2 separate regions of the Homo sapiens genome follow, and region 2 is linked to region 1. The links come from fine-mapping of genetic effects on gene expression. Tissue or cell type: lung. Region 1 holds a variant in brackets; the other region holds the start of a gene. All regions are shown on one strand. Distances are from middle to middle. Region 1 holds the start of LOC107984260 (a long non-coding RNA gene). Region 2 holds the start of SFRP5 (secreted frizzled related protein 5).

Evidence for each region.
Region 2: SFRP5 starts here. The variant in region 1 is fine-mapped to the expression of SFRP5 in lung (TOPMed, PIP 0.93).

The regions. Positions count from the first base shown.
Region 1 is chr10:97,816,774-97,822,145 of GRCh38, forward strand. It overlaps LOC107984260 (a long non-coding RNA gene), which reads left to right and starts at 5,124. Exons shown (of 3, transcript XR_001747563.2): 1 at 5,124-5,372. The variant CTGTAAA/C (reference allele first, on the strand shown) is at 2,375.
Region 2 is chr10:97,769,103-97,774,474 of GRCh38, forward strand. SFRP5 (secreted frizzled related protein 5) reads right to left here and starts at 2,897. Exons shown (of 3, transcript NM_003015.3): 1 at 2,203-2,897; 2 at 566-643. The coding sequence starts at 2,731.

The DNA of each region.
Region 1 (5,372 bases):
CTCTGGCCAGGGGGCTGGAATCATGGCCCTTTGTAGGTAAGGAGGGGCAGGGGTAGGGAGGCACCCTCGTGGTGGCCAGGGCGTACGTAAGGAGGCGCTTATGCTCAGGTTCTTGAAGTGGCCCAGCAAGAGAGCATTTCCTTAATAATGAGGTTCCTGGGGAGCAAAATATGGGAGGCCCTCATTCTCAGGGTGGTGAAGGGCCCACTCCCCACCCACTCCTGCCAGAACTTGAGAATGCGGGCTCCCTAAATGTCCCACTCTCCCAAACTTGTCTGGTCCTGCATCCTGGTTACTGCACTCAGGGAGCCCGAGGGATGTGCTGGGATTGCAGGTGAAGGAGAGGGTGGGGCAGGCAGAGCATTCAGGACCTCTCACACCAGACCATGGCTTCTCAACCCCAGCTGCACACAGGAAGCCCCCGGGAAGCTTTAACATTTCCTGATGCCAGGACCCCATCCCCAGAGATTTGGATTTAATGAATCTGGGGTGCAGCTGGTGTTGGGATTTTTAAAACTCCCCAGGGGATTCTAATGGGCAGCAAACTTTGAAAACCTCTGATCTGGATGGAGCAGGGAGGGTGTTGTTTATGGGTTTTCCTTCCATCTGTTTTAGTTGGAAGCAACAGACCGACAAGCAGGACACAGACTTCTAAGGGTAATGCTGTTTTTTTTTTTCTTTGAGATGGTGTCTCACTCATTCCGATTGTACAGTGGCATAGTCTTGGCTCACTGCAACCTCCGTCTCCCAGGTTCAAGTGTTTCTCCTGCCTCAGCCTCTCGAGTAGCTGGGATTACAGGTGCTCACCACCACGCCTGGCTAATTTTTGTATTTTTAGTAGAGACGGGTTTTCACCATGTTGGCCAGGCTGGTCTCGAACTCCTGAGCTCAGGTGATCTGCCCGCCTTGACCCCCCAAAATGCTGGGATAACAGGAGTGAGCCACCGTGCCCGGCCTGGGTAACACTTTTGCTGGTAACACCAATAGCTGAATGCTGTTGTCAACATTCAACAAGGTGAATGGACTATGAGGAGGACGGAAAGAAGCCTAAGATTCAAGCTCCCAATCTGTGCCACATGCATCATGTTTGCCACTTAACGGTCAGTCCTGGGAGTTTACAGATGAGGAGCTTGAGTCTTGGCCAGGCTAAGGACTTTGCCTGCGCCTCACAGCTGTGGAATTGTAGAGCCTTAAATGAAATTGATGTGTGACAAGGTGCTGGTAGGAATGAAAGTCCTTCCTGTTGCTTTCAGATTGATTTTCTAAATAAAGTATTTCTGGGGTCAGCTGGTGGAGGAGAGGGCTTGGGAAAGAACTGGGCCCCGACTCCTCTCTGCCTGCAAGATAGAGGGTGGGGAGGAGCTGAAGGCTATTTTAGGCCCCGTCCCCCATCAGATTCTGTCGGAATCTGGCCTCAGCCAGCTGCCTCAAGTGATTTTAAGGAAAAATACCTCTCCCTCTGCTTAAAGACAAATAGATCCCTGAACGTAAAGTGAGTTGACTAGTGTGATAAAAACGGGCCTCCTCCTTGCCTCCAAATTCTCTCACACACACACACACACACACACACACACACACACACACGTATGCACACATACACACACTCAGAGTTACCGCAATTCCACCACCTAGGTGATTAGATTGAGCCAGAAAATACTCATGGGAGGGTAAGTGGGGAGACAATTCCATCTGTTACAGCATATTATAGGTTACAGAGTACTTTTATAGGGGGCTGATCCTACATTCTCAGCAGACCTATGCATCCTGCTAGACAGCAAACACCGTGGGGAATATGCCACAGAGGCTTCTGTAGATGCAAAGAGAGAGCATTTAAGGTGAGGCTTGGAAGATGCTGAAAGTTGCTCTTTAATGGGTAACTTTATGCAAAAGAATTGTCCCACTGGCTTCCAAAGCAGTAACAATGCTGTGAGCAGCTTTTTGCTGTGGTGACAAAAGTTCACTTTCTCCTACTGAGAGTGGTTTCTGCATTCTCAGTTGGTTCATGCAGGAGCAGTGGGCCAGGGAAGAGAGCACCAGGGCTGGTTGGATTCCTGCCTGTCCACTTATGGGCTCCCTCACCTTGGGTGAGGGGATTAGCCTCTGAGTCCTGGTTTCCTCCTATGCATGTTGGGGGCTTCTGCTTCTGGCCAAGACAGGGTAGCAGGGACTGGATTTATACTCCTGCCTGAAACAATTTTTAAAAAACAGACAGAACATATGAAATAATGGTTTTCAAGACACTAGACATTAGGCTACAAGATTCAGGGGTCCCACAGAGCTCTATGGTTGTCTCTGCTTACTACCTGGAGAGTGTTTTCGGCCACAACCCAGAGAGGGGGAACTCGGGCCAGGTGGGGAGAAATGGAAGTAAATT[CTGTAAA/C]TGTAAGGTTCTTATACTCGATGTGAAGTGGCACAACATCACTTGAAGGTAAATTGTGAAAAGGTCAAGATGTGTACTATAAACACTAAAGCAACTGCTAAAATAGCAGAGTTACAGCTGCTAAGCCAATAAAGAAGATAAAATGGAATAATCAAAAATAGTCCAAAAGAAGGCAGAAAAGGGGAAAAAAATAGATGGAACAAATAGAAAACAACCTGGGGCTATGCCAGGTTCCCCTGCCTCTCCTCCTTGGAGTCAGGAGGTCCCAGCCCTGCCTCCAAGCCACACTGAACCTTGGTTTTCTCATCTGAAGAATGGGATAGCAGTTCTGACCTCTCAGGGATATCCGAGGGTTCCTCGGGAGTGTGGTGCCTGGTGCAGGATGGCTGCTTTCCCTCTTCTGTCTGCCTGGCCCAGCTCCTGCCTCTGCGCTCCTCTCCCCTCTCTTACTTGGGGGTACTTTTCTCCCTTGGACTGCCCCTGCCTCTCCAAGGCCTTCTGGGAGCCAAGTGGCTTGGCCCTGCCAGTGGGCAGGTTGAAGATTTTTCCTTCAAGACCCTCGAAGGCCAGGTGGTCAGGGGTTGGGGGGCATGAAAGTTGAGTGAGACTAAGCTTTTTGCTTTTGTTTTTGTTTTTATTATTTTTAATGTTTCATTGTGGTTTTTTTTGTTTGTTTGTTTGTTTTTTTTTTTTTTTTTAGATAAAATTCACATAACATACAAGGAACCGTGTTAAAGTGTACAATTCAGTCTGGGTGTGGTGGTCCACACCTCTAATCCCAGCACTTTGGGAGGCCAAGGTGGGAGGATCACTTGAGTCTAGGAGTTTGAAACTAGCCTGGGCAACGTGGTGAAACCCTGTCTCTACAAAAAGTAGAAGAATTAGCTGGGTGTGGTGGTGTGGGAGCTGGGGGTGGGAGGCTGAGATGGGAGGATGGCTTGAGCCTGGGAGGCAGAGGTTGCAGTGAGCCGAGATCACCCCACTGCACTCTGGTCTGGGCAACAGAGTGAGACCCTGTCTCAATAAATAAATAAATAAATAAATAAAAATTATACAATTCAGTGGCATTTAGTATATTCCCAATGTTGTACAACCACCAGTTTCAAAACCACTAGTTTCAAAATTTTTCGTCACTCCAGAAAAACACCCTGTGCCCATTAAGTAATCACTCCTCATTCTCTCCCTCCCCCCAGCCTCTGGTAACCACTCATCTGCTTTCTCCCTTTATGGATTTACCTATTGTGTTCATTTCATTTCAAAGGAATCATAGACTCTGTGGCCTTTTATGTCTGGCTTCCTTCCCTTGGCGTAATGTTTTAAGTTTCATCCATGTTATAGCAAGTGTCAGCACTTTATTTCTTTTTAATAGCTGAGTAATATTCTATTGCATGTACATAACACGATTTGTTTATCCATTCAGCCGTTGATGGACATTGAGTTGTTTCTACCTTTCGGTTACTGTGGATAGTGCTGTGATGAACATTTGTGAACAAGGGGAGTCCCTGTTTTCAGTCATTTCGAGCATATCCAAATGCGTGGAGTTGGTGGGTCATACGGAAATTCTGTTTACCTTTTGCAGAAACTGCCAAACTGCTCTCCACAGTGGCTGTACCTCCTTTTAGTTTTCATATTATATTATTCTAAGTGCAAAGATAAGACAACGCCATAGAAAATTTGGAAATTATGCCTTGAGCAATTTTTTTAAAAAAGTTTTCATTTTAAAAAATCATAAAGTTTATATAAATCCATGCTTATTGTAACAATTCAAAGACATTTCTAGCAGAAAAAAGTCTATCTGCTCCTCCATCACTTTCCCCCTAGCTGATAAATGTTGACCCTTTAGTAAGTATCTTTCCAGACATTTTCCAGGCATTGATAGAGTTTTGGGATTTTTCTTTTTACATGAACTTGTCATACTATCCATATTATTTGCTTTGAAATCTTTCTATGCATTTCTTGTGAATTTCAAGTTGGAAAGACTGTCCCAGAGCCAGGCGGGTGGTCCCTGGAGGAGAGACCCTCAGATCTGTGACCTGTCCTTGCTCTGTTAAAAAAAGTTTGGAAGTCTGGGCCACAGGTATGGACAAAGTTGTCCTTGAGTGGATGGATAAAGAATGTATTATAATTTTCTTTTTGTTATCTGCATATATAAATTCTTTGTAAAATGAGTATGAATTGCTTTTATAATAAGAAAAAAAAGTGGGGAAGAATTGAGGGCCTGCAGTCTTGGTGCCCAGCTTGTACCTTAATTTAGCACTAACTTCATTCCTTCTCATTGCATAATGAGTTGTTTATGTGTTTGCCTCCCTTGAGGGAGGACAGGCTTATTCATCTCCTTGCCCTCCCGACTCCTTCCCTGCTCAGGTCTGAGCCCCATGCCAGGCACACAGCAGGATTGCTGAACCAGCAAGTAGCCCCTGCAGGGTTGTGGTGGAGGCTGCAGAGGAGAGGGTGGGTCCCAAAGACCCCCATATGCCCTCAGCTCAGGCTCCCAAAGGAGAGTGCATAGCCGGGGGAGTCCAGGCCCCCAGGACCAGGCTCCCAGTGGTCACACTCTCTGCAGGGGCACTGGGCCCAGCCTCTGTGGGAAGCTGGGTGTGAGCGCAGGTGCAGTTATTCATGGCAGCCCTGGCCAGAGTACCCATGGCAGGCGGCATCCAGCTGAGGAGTTAATTAGAGCACTGCCAGGAGCAGGAAAGGGGGGCAGGAGGCTTGGAGGCTTGGGCTCCCTTTCCATAGAGATAGAAATAGCTGGGCTCCTGGCGGAGGCGGAGAGCAGTACACACAGGAATGGAGGTGCGAGCAGCCAGCGCCTGGGGCACAGGGTGGGGGTTGTCTTCTTGGGCTTGTCCCGTCATTCTTGTTTGGGAGGGGGAAGGGGAAGGGGCATGTGGTCTGTGGCCCGGAGGGGGCCTGTCCGAGGCCCTTCTTCTCCTTCCTGGGGCCTCCCCATCTGTCTCCCAAGCCTGGCCTGCCCGGGCTCACGGGGGGC
Region 2 (5,372 bases), 48 kb before region 1:
GGCAAAGATCACACACTGGACTGCGTGGCCCATGTGTGAGCCAGGTCCTGACCGGACTTGGCTGGATTGTCCCAGAAAATGGGAAGGCTCTGGGATGAAGCTGTGGGGACAGGTGACCACAGCTCCGCTGGCAGGAGGTGTGCTGAGTCCCAGGTGGAGGTACCCATGGACAAGGGTGCTCCACTTCCATCCTAGAGCCATCACTCCCCACCTGGCTCCATCCATCTCTGGGCTAAGCCTGCACTATCCACAGAGATGATCCAGTCATGGAGGGCCCTCTGAAAATGACACCAAGGGAGGGCTGTGGGAGCCCTGGCCGGGGTGGTTTCTGAGGCCCAAGGCCCATGGCCTTAGGGGACTTGTGATGGTCCTGAGATGATGCAGAAAGAGGTGCATTTCTCTTGGGAAAGGGTTTATGGTTATAATTGGCTTCTAAACGGGAGCCATGATGCAAAAACTGTTGGGATTCACTGTGATGGATGTGGGCATGTATGTTCCCGTGTGCGTCAAGAAAGAGGGGCTGGGGGTGATGTCGGGGCAGTGGCAGCGTGGGCCCCACACTCACCAAAGTCACTGGAGCACATCTGCTCCATGAGGCCGTCAGCACTGTGCTCCATCTCACACTGGGCGCAGATCTTGGTCACTGAAGAGAGAAAGTGGGGTGGGGTTGGGGGACAGTTGGTGAGGGGATTGGAGTTCCAAGAGCCACTTGGGGTGCAGGCTTCCTCACTGACCAGCCACTTCCCCTTGCCAAGCCTCTACTTCCTTATCAGGAGATGGGATGATGGCAATCATATCACTACCTGCTCACAGAGTGATTGACAATCACCAGACAGGCTGTGCAGTGACAAAACTGCCAGGTGGGCACAGTGACTGCCCCATGACCCTGGCGGCTGCAGCCATGATGTGCATTGTCTTTTAAATTTTATCTCCTCTCATCCTCAGCCTATGAAATAGGGATTCTTATTCCTATTTTATTTTTGAGATGTAGTCTCGCTCTGTCACCCAGGCTGGAGTGCAGTGGCTCTCTAATCTCAGCTTACTGCAACCTCTGCCTCCCAGGTTTAAGCGATTCTTCTGTCTCAGCCTCCCGAGTAGCTGAGATTACAGGCGTGTGCCACCACGCTCGGCTAATTTTTGTATTTTCAGTAGAGACGGGGTTTCACCATGTTGGCCAGGCTGGTCTAGAACTCCTGACCTCAAGTGATTCACCCACCTTGGCCTCCCAAAGTGCTGGGATTACAAGTGTGAACCACTGCGCCCAGCCCTTACTCCTATTTTGGAGAAAAGGGAACCGAGGCCCAGAGCGGTTACTCAAGTCTGACAGCAGACGGGGAGGAAGGGGGAGAGGGCATGGAGCCAGCCTGGAAGAGCTATGTGGACCAGCACAGAAAAGGGGAGGCTGAGACCAGGGAGAAATTAGGGTTCAGGGGACTGAGGGGTGGGTGGGAGGAGGGACTTAGGACCTCATAGGTTTCATGAGCCTGGGATGGCTTCCTATTTTATGGATGGGGAAACTGAGGCTCAGTGAAGTCAAGCAACTTGCCTAAGGGCTTCTCTTCAGGGGCAGAGCCTAATCTGCTCTTCCTTCCGCACTGAGCCTTACCCGAATGACTCCCAGCCAGGGGAACTGGGGAAGAGGGTGGAGATCTTAGGGTTCCAGGTACAGAAAACGGGGACGCAGATCATAGTCCAGAACATTCTTAGTCCCCAGTCTTTCTCCACATCCCTTCCCTCACCTCTCCTCTCTTCCCAAGGTCCCAACACGGAGTGGGGATGATGCTTGCTTTGGTGCCTCGGGATCCAGGTGAAAGGCATTGTTTAACGACCCCAGGCATTCTTGGGCTGAGAGGGGTCATAAGGCATTTATCAGGACGTCCCAGGATTGGGGGGACGGCATTGGGGGATTCTCAGCAGCTTGGTTGGATGGGTACTGAGAGGGGTGCCAGGGGTTTCCAGGGAACGAGAGCCAGAGGGAAGGTCTGGAGCCGCCGGGAGGCACTATGCTGCCACTCCCTGGGGAGGTGGGAAGGCGGGAAGGCTGCGGGGGATAATTCCGGGGACGCTGGGCTGAGCTAGGACAGCGTGTGTGTGTGTGTGTGGGCGGAGGGGGGGAGCTGCACCTCTTGGGGGGTTCGCAGAGCTGTGCTAGGGGAGCTGCAGGGCCGTCGGAGCGCGCGGGGACGGCGGCGGCGGCGCTACCTGGAGGCGCGGTGGCGGGCAGGTGCCCGAACTGCACGGCGATGCAGAGGTCGTTGTCCAGGGGGAACTTGTGGCAGTGCAGCATCTCAGGCCAGGGGAAGCCGTAGGCCTCCATGAGCGGCGCGCAGCCGGCGCGCACGGCCTCGCACAGCGAGCGGCACGGGTAGATGGGCCGGTCGAGACAGACGGGCGCAAAGAGCGAGCACAGGAAGACCTGCGTATCCGAGTGGCAGCGCTTGGCCAGCAGCGGCAGCCAGCTGCTCGCCTGCTGCTTCACTTCGGCCAGGCTCTCGTGCTCCAGCAGGTTGGGCAGCCGCATGCGCTTGTAGCCCACCGTGTGGCAGAGCGGCAGGTCGGCAGGGATGTCAAGGCACTGCGGCGGCTTGGAGTAGGAGCGGCCGTGCAGCGGCTCGGCCTGCCAGCCATAGTAGTCGTACTCCTCGCAGCGCGCCGGCGCCCAGTGCAGCGCCCCCAGCAGCAGCGCCAGCGCGGCCGTCCGCACGCCCCCCCCCGCCGCCGCCGCCCGCATGGCTGCGCCCTCTCCAGGTGCGCGCCGCGCAGCCCCCCGACGCTCGGTGCCCGGCGGCCCAGGTGTTCCGGCGTGCGCCCCCGGCCCTGACTCTACCCAGCCGCCGCCGCCGCCGCCGCGGAGGTCGCCCAGGTGGGTGGCAGCCTGCGCTGCGGGCGCCCCGACTGATCCTGGCGCCTCCCACCTCGGGGCTCCAGCCCGGGCCTCGCCGTGCGCCCCAGCCAATCTCCGGCCGCCTGGCCCCAGCTCCAAGGCGGGGAGGCAGTGGGGGCGGCCCTCAGCCCCTCCCGCACCCTGCCCGAGCGTCCCGCCCAGCGCCAGGTCTTGCGCCCCTCTCCCGGCTCGGCTCCCCTGCCGCAGCCCTGGCCTCGCCCAGCGTTTCTCCCCAGGGCTCCCTGCCTCCCTGGGCATTTTCCTCGACCCTCGCCTTCTCCATCCTTCCTCCTTATCTCTCTCCGCCACAGCCTCTCCTGTTCCTTTTCTCACTCACTTCACTTGCTTATCTCTCTGCCTTGGCTTTTCTCCCTCTGCTCTGTTTTCTCTTCCCCGACACCTCGGTTCCTCTTCTCCCTGGTGGGAGGCTCGTGCCACCCCACACCCTGGATCTTCTGGTCCTCCTGGCAGGTCTTCATTGAGCTTGGTGCCAGGCCCCATGCTGGCTGCTGGGGAATCAAAGATGGATATGACCCAGAACCCACCTCCAGGGCCAGGATAGTCTAGTGGGGGTGAAGGTAATCATAGCTTCTATTTAGTGAGCTCTTACTACCTGCCAGGGACGGTGCAAGGTGCAAGGTGCGGTGCAAGGTGCGGTGCAAGGTACGTTCCAAGCTTATCAGCTATTGCTAATGATAGCCAATACTTAGTGGGTGCTAATTGTGTGCCAAGTCTGATCTGAGCACATTGCATAAACTCCCTCAGCTAATTCTCACAATAAGGCTAGATGGTGGGTAGGTACTATTATTGTCCCCACCTTACAGATAAAGATCCTGCGGCAGAGAGGTTAAGCACAGATTAGAGCTGGGATTTGAACCCAGATAGTCTTTTTCGAGAGTCAGAGCCCAGAAACAACCAGGAGGCCTGGATTCTGAGTCTGTAGGCCTAATGACCAAGGGGATAGGGAGTTCAGAGAAGTGGAGTAACTGGCCCTTGGCCACACAGCTCATATGTGAAGGAGCTAGGATTTGAATCCAGATGTTGGGCTACAAAGGCCAGGGCTTAACCACTCTGTGGTAAGATAACTTCCAACCCATGGTAGGGAACACAGTGGGAAGAGGGGGAATTGATGGTGTGTCTGAGCAGGGCACCCAGGCAAGCATCAGAGGGGAGGGGACCTTCAGGAGCCCCATGCTTGGTGTCTTTCTCTCCTGTCTGAGTCCTGCCTTTCATTGGCTCTCCCTTGAGAGGAATTTGGACTGGAGGCTTGAAGGGAGGGGAATTCCTTCCTGAGAGCCTAGCCTGACACCTGACCTCCCAGTCTTTGGTGGGGAGGGTACCTTGGGGAGGTGTCTCCTAGGAGGGCGTGGGGAGCTGGGGGCTGGCTCTGCTGGAAGGCAGGAGTACTGGGCACTTTCCCCCTCTGCTCCTCCCCTTAGTCCCACTAATGGATGTTTCCAGGGCTCCTGTCTTCCTCTGGGTCTGTCCTTGCAGTGGTAGTGGAGAGGGGTGAGGGGCCACTCCTTAATATTCACAGAAAATGCATAGAGTACCTACTATCTGCAAGGCATGGGGTAGGGTATGCATGGGGACACAGAGGTGCAAAAGACATGGCTCTGTTCCTTCTGATCTAGTTGTAAGAAAAAGATACAAGGCAGGCAGAGGAGGCAGGAGAAGCCTCATCTCACTGAGCCCCAAGGGTGGGACAAGCCGTGTTTGATGTCCAGGATGACCTAGTGGGGTCCAGGTAGAGTAAACTTTGGCCTTCTTTTCCCCTCTCCCTCTCCCAGCCCCCAGCATGAAGAGGTTATGCAGATGGCCACTCAGAAGGTGAAGGACTGGTCTCTGCAGGGCCAGGCAGTGCAGTGTAGCAATGGTGCGAGAGCCTGGGCTCTGCAGACGATGGAGCCAGGTTCAGATCCTGGCCACATATTAGCTGTATGACCTTGGGCAAGTACTTAACCTCATTTCCTTCTTTGTAAAATGGAATTTCTTCAGCAGTTACTGTGAGAAGCAAATAAGGTGAATGGAAAGAAAGCCCCCTGCACAGTGCCAACACACAGAATGAACACCTAGGAATGTTAGATCCCCAAGGGACGTGTGACTTTGAGGTAAAAATGTGCTGTATGGGCTGGGTGCAGTTGTTCTCGCCCGTAAATCCCAGCACTTTGGGAGGCTGAGGTGAGAGGATCGCTTGAGCCCTGGAGTTTGAGACCAGCCTGGGCAACACAGCAAGACTCCATCTCTACAAAAATTAGAAAAGTTAACTGGGTATGGTGGCATGCGCCTGCAATCCCAGCTACTCTGGAGGCTGAGGTGGGAGAACTGCTTGAGTTCAGGAGTTCGAGGTTACAGTGAGCTGTGATTGCACCATTGCACTCCAGCCTGGGCAACAGAGCAAGACCCTGTCTCTTAAAAAAAGAAAGTGGTGGCTGGGCATGGTGGCTCATGCCTGTAATCCCAGCACTTTGGGAGGCCGAGGTGGGCA